Linked DNA regions of Homo sapiens: region 2 is linked to region 1. A link means that fine-mapping ties the variant in region 1 to the expression of a gene that starts in the linked region. Tissue or cell type: whole blood. Region 1 holds a variant in brackets; the other region holds the start of a gene. All regions are shown on one strand. Distances are between the middles of the regions.

The links. PIP is the estimated chance that this variant, and not a neighbour inherited with it, causes the effect.
Region 2: C8orf58 starts here. The variant in region 1 is fine-mapped to the expression of C8orf58 in whole blood (TOPMed, PIP above 0.99).

The regions. Positions count from the first base shown.
Region 1 is chr8:22,568,262-22,571,012 of GRCh38, reverse strand. It overlaps SORBS3 (sorbin and SH3 domain containing 3), which reads right to left. Exons shown (of 21, transcript NM_005775.5): 17 at 1,740-1,865; 18 at 1-103. Among named protein-coding and RNA genes, the nearest start is that of PDLIM2, 11 kb to the left of the region's middle. The variant C/G (reference allele first, on the strand shown) is at 1,667.
Region 2 is chr8:22,598,345-22,600,953 of GRCh38, reverse strand. It overlaps C8orf58 (chromosome 8 open reading frame 58), which reads right to left and starts at 1,355. Exons shown (of 7, transcript NM_001013842.3): 1 at 1,194-1,355; 2 at 1-72. The coding sequence starts at 1,233. RefSeq lists silencers at 956-1,415, 1,446-1,545, 1,911-1,970 and an enhancer at 2,357-2,609.

The DNA.
Region 1 (2,751 bases):
CCTGCACGTAGCTGGCAGGGAATATGCCTTGGCGCCCCGTGCCCGTGATGCGTCCCTCGTACCAGTTCTCGTTCACCTTGCGGATCAGGCAGATGTGCTCTCCCTGAGGGGGGAAAAGTCAGTGTCTGTGGGGCCTTCCTGGTGCCATGGACCCACGGGTGCCTTATCTGGGCTGTCTCATTCAACCCTAACACCTTGGACACACGAGGGGTCGGAATCGCAGGGGGCCAGCAGTTTACCCGAGTCACACGGTAAGAGCAGGAGCCAGGAGCCAAGCCCAGGCTGCCCAGGCAAGGCTGAGGCTGAGACTGGGTCCTGCCTCTTGGAAGCTCAACGGGTGTGCATCCCCCTTCGGCGTTCATAGCAAGGTCCCTCCCCAGAGCTCCGATCACAGGTGAGCCCGTGGCTAATAATACAGATCCAAACCCAGCTCCACCAGGCCAAGCTGTGTGGCCTCAGGCAGCCTGCTCTGTCTCTCTGAGCCTTGTTTTCTCCTATGTTAAGTGAAAATAACCATACTGTCACTATGAGGTGTGAACGAGATCAACAGTCCACTCCTTAGACACACTGGACAGGTGCTACCACTACTGCCCTGCCTGGGTCCTGTTCCTGCCTCACGCTGGGGGACCTTGTCATGAGCGTGTCAAAAACACACTCCCCAGGACAGGCAGGGAGTCCTGAAGGCCACAGGCTGGCTGACATTAGGTAGAACCACCCCCTGGGAGGGTGGCCTCCAGCCCTTGCCTTCCCCTGTCCTCTCCTGCCCCCATCTGTCTCCATCCAGCCACCTTCTTCCCCCTCTGTCCCTGGGGCCAGCTCTTCTGGGAGGCATTCACTATGGGCCGTCTTTCGCTTATTTTGGGAGCATGATCACTGCTCCCAAAATCAACCAAAGGCAGACCACTTCCCTGCTTTCTAGAACAGCATTTTTCAAACTTGTTTCACCACAATCTACAGTTAAAAATGTTTTAATAACAGCCCAGAATACATATATATGTGCATACACAGAACTGCCTACGGTATGATAAAGTGCTTTCTGCTCGCAACGCATGCTAACATTTCTGTCTATACCTTTAAAAATGCTGAGTATGATCCCCTGCAACCTGCAGTTGAAAAAATATATATGTAACTCTAGAAGTTTATGATGATCTTTTAAAAATGGACCAAAATTACTTGGGAGGCTGGGGCAGGGACAGGGGATCGCTTGAGCCCAGGAGTTCAAGGTCAGCCCGGGCAACATAGTGAGATGCTGTCTCAAAAAAAAGCAAAAAAAAGCCACTACACTAAAGGAAGCATAATGAAAGAGACTGGGGAAAACTTTGAAATCCTGGGTGAAGCTAGGTACATCGGACTCTTTTTTAAAGAAGTGTTTTTAGGCCAGGCGCGGTGGCTCACGCCTGTAATCCCAACACTTTAGGAGGCTGAGGCGGGTGGATTATGAGGTCAAGAGACTGAGACCATCCTGGCCAACATCGTGAAACCCTGTCTCTACTAAAAATACAAAAATTAGCTGGGTGTTGTGGCGCGTGCCTGTAGTCCCAGCTACTCGGGAAGCTGAGGCAGGAGAATTGCTTGAACCCGGGAGGCGGAGGTTGCAGTGAGCCGAGATGGCACCACTGCGCTACAGCCTGGCGATAGAGTGAGACTCTGTCTCAAAAAAAAAAAA[C/G]TGTTTTTAGTGCACATATTTACCTACATCTTCACCTGCCCCCACCCACCCCTCCGTCTCCGGCCTGGCCCACCTTGCGGAAGGACAGCTCCACCTCCAGGTCCCCCTTGAAGGTGTACTGGGCCACAGCCTCTCCATACTCCAGCACCTGGTAGGTCGGGGGCTTGATGGGCTTAGGGATCTCATCTGCGGGCAGCACCTGCATGAAGAAAGGTCATGAGAAAGATTTGGCCTGGGCATCAACATAGCACAGGCTGGGGGTTCCTGTGAGACAGCAAAGAGAAGGTGGGCCCGCCCCTAGGCAGAGAAAAGATATAAACACCAGACACAAGCCCTGGGGGCAGCCACGGGTGGGCACAGCCAAAGGGTGCTGGAGGATGGGGAGGAGTCTGGGAACGCTCCCTGGAAGAAGAATTTTCCATAGGGATATATGGAGTGGGCATTACTGAAGTGAAGAACTCCAAGAGAAAAGATGGAAGCCAGTCCAATTAGAGAGTTTAAGTTGGACCACAGAAGAAAATGAGGCGTTCCAAGCAGCAAGGGGAACTTGGGGAACTGTTCCAAAACTGAGCATTCACCCTTTTCTCACTGCTGAGAACCGGGTGTCCCTGGGTTCCAGCGTCTCGGTTCTTCCTCCCCATCTACCCCAGCCGGAGCCCAGAATCCTCACGTTCTCTTTGCTTCACTCTGCCCATAAAAATCAAGCAGCCAATAAACCATTTCACACAAAGATAGAAACGACTGGCGGAGTGAAATACTGTATATACTTTGTGAAATTTCAGGACCAAGTGGATCATCGTGTAAGCAAGGGAGGCCTAATGATACCTATCAAAACAAGAGCCTGAATTAAACAACAACCCAACCCATGGGTCAAAGAGGAAGTCACAGACGAGATGAGAAAACAGTCAAGAGTTGATGAAAAATCAAAATGTGTGAGATGCAGTTAAAGCAGCATTCTAGGGAAAAATGTTTCAAATCAATAGTCTAAACTTTCATCCTAAGAAACTTAGAAAAATAACAAATTAAACCAAAAGCAAGCAACAATAAGCAAATAAGAAGCAGAACTCAATGAAATCGAAAACAAA
Region 2 (2,609 bases), 30 kb before region 1:
CGGGGATCCGTCTGTAGGTGCTGGTGACTCCAGGCACTATGCAGCCCCGTGCCAGGCCCTCGCCAGCCCCATCTGCATGGAGAGTCAGCGTCAGGCTGGGCAGGCCACCCCCAACACCCCCAGCATTCCTGAAGGCTGGCAGCACTGCCCCAGGGAGAAGTGTCCCGGAGCAGTGAGGAAGGGCGGTCACTGGACAGCCACGGGCAGCCCGGATATGGCCCCAGCTGTCTGGGAGATGTGTGGATGGGATTCCCTTCGCAACGGTTGTTAGCGACAGGGAACCCGTGCTCTGAGCTGTGTGGTAGGCAAAGCCCTGGCAGGCCACATCCATCAATCCCTTAGACGGCCTGCGCCTGCGCTTCCCACCTAGGATCAGCCCACGATCTCCCGAGTCAGAAGTAGGGAGCCACAGGCTCTTCCGCTGCTCCCCAAGCGGGAGTAGGACTGTATCCAGCTTCAGGGAGAGGGGAGAGGGTACAGAGAGGAAAGCCTGGGATCCAACCTGCTCTCTGGGGGCCCCTGCGGCATCAGGATGCCAGGTGAAGTCTCTCCTGCAGCTCACCGGGAGAGTGATAAAAATCACCGCTATAACCGATTTGGGCTTTTGTTGTAAGTGAGCAATAGTGAAGATTTTATGAAAAGTTTAAAATGAAAGAACTGAAGTGAAAGAAAGGGACGAAGGGGCAGCATTAGCACCCCCTCACTGTCACCTCCGCCAGGCCCTCTGGCGACGGGGCGTCCTGGCGGAATGAACGGTACGGGAAACAGGCTAGGGGGGCGGGGACGAGCTGCGGGGCACGCGGGAGCCGAATGCCAACCCAGGCCCCTCTGGGCAAGGAAGTGGGCCAGGAGGTCACTGGGTGGGAGAGGGGTCCGCAGCCACGGAGGGGGCTGGGGCGCGGGCGGATTCCCACATCCTCAGAAGGAGCGGGAAGGCGAGGGAAGCGGAGCCGGAGGAAGTGGGGCGGAGGCGGTGGCTGGTTTAACGCCTGGGCCCAAAGGGGTTCCAGCCTGCATGGCGTCCCCTGATGACCGCCCCTCCAGGGAGGCGGCGAGGGAGGCGCAGCGGCGCGGGCTCCGCCCGCGGGGTGCGCGGGGCTGGGCAAGAAACTGAGAGAGGGTGCCCGGCTTGGGGGCGGGAAGCGGCTCCGGGGCAGGGGGGAGCCCGGCCAGCCTGGGGGTGGGTGACTCACCCCGGCCGTCCACGGCGAAGGCGCGCCGCCGGCCCATCATGGCCCGCTCCCGGCCCCGGCCCCGGCCAATGCAGCCGCCCGAGGATCCCGGCCCGAGTCCCCGCGGAGCTCGGGCAGCTCAGGGAGCGCGTCCCGACCCAGCTGGGCGCGGCCCCCAGACACTCCCAGCGGGGCTGGGGGGGCGGGGAGCGGGGCTGGGGGGGCGGGGGGCGGGGCGGTGGGGGGCGTGGCCTAGGGGGAGGAGAGAGGAAGAGCGAGACGAGGAAGGGAGGGGCGAGGAGAGAGGGGAGGGGCGAGACGAGGGAGGGGAGGGGCGAGGCAAGGTAGGGGAGCGGCGAGAGGAGGGGAGGGGCGAGGGGAAGGGGGAGGGGCGAGGAGAAGGGGGCGAGGAGAAAGGGGCGGGGCAAGACGAGGGATGAGAGGAACGAGGCGAGGGAGGGGAAAGGAGAGGGAGGGGAGGGGCGAGGAGAGGGAGGGGAGGGGCGAGGAAGAGGAGGGCGAGGGGAGGGGAGAGGAGAGGGTGGGGAGGGGAGAGGGAGGGGAGAGGGGAGGGGCGAGGAGAGGGTGGGCAGAGGAGAGGGAGGGGAGAGGGGAGAGGGGAGGAAAGGAGAGGGGAGAGGGGAGGAGAGGAGAGGGGAGAGGGAAAGGGGAGAGGAGAGGGAGGGGAGGGGAGAGGAGAGGGAGGGGAGGGGAGAGGAGAGGGGAGGGGCGAGAGGAGGGAGGGGAGGGGCGAGAGGAGGGAAGGCAAGGGTGCCAGGTGGGGGGCGCAGGTGGCCGGGTCGCCAAGAACGAGGTCGAAGGCACGGACTGGGTGGCGCCCCCAACTGTGGCTGTGGCCAAAATAAGGGTCCCGATCAGCTGTTCTGCGAGGACCCGGCCCCCGCCTGGGGACGCCGTCTGGCTCGGGGCGCCGGTCCGCCCGGCCCCGCGGGTTCACACGCAGCGTCCGTCTTCCTGCCGCGGACTTAGAGCCGGGGCTGGCTGGAGGACCGGACAAGAGCCAGGAAGGAAATGGGAGCCCCACGTGCTGGCGGTGGGAAGAGCGCTGACCAGGACGCGGGCACCCGGCGCTCCCTAGCAGTGTGGCTTGGGGGCCAGTCTCTTGGCCGCTCGGAAACCTGGGCGATGGGAGGGGAAACGATCCTGCCCACCGGGAAATCTTTTACAACTGCAGAACGCGCGTGTGTCCTCAGCTAGATCTGAACCCCCTCCCGGTCCCCTGCCTCTTTCTCATCCCGGGCTCCCTAAAGCTGGGGACTGGGTAGGTCTCAAGGTCTGGAAAGATGCGAGCCAGCGGGGAGCCGCCTGGAGACTGGGCCAAAGTGTAAATGTCCCCCTGTTCCCACCTCACCCTGCCTTTGGCCCGTGGGATTCCACCCCTCAGTCCCCAACCTAAAAGGAGCCCAAGAAGCTACT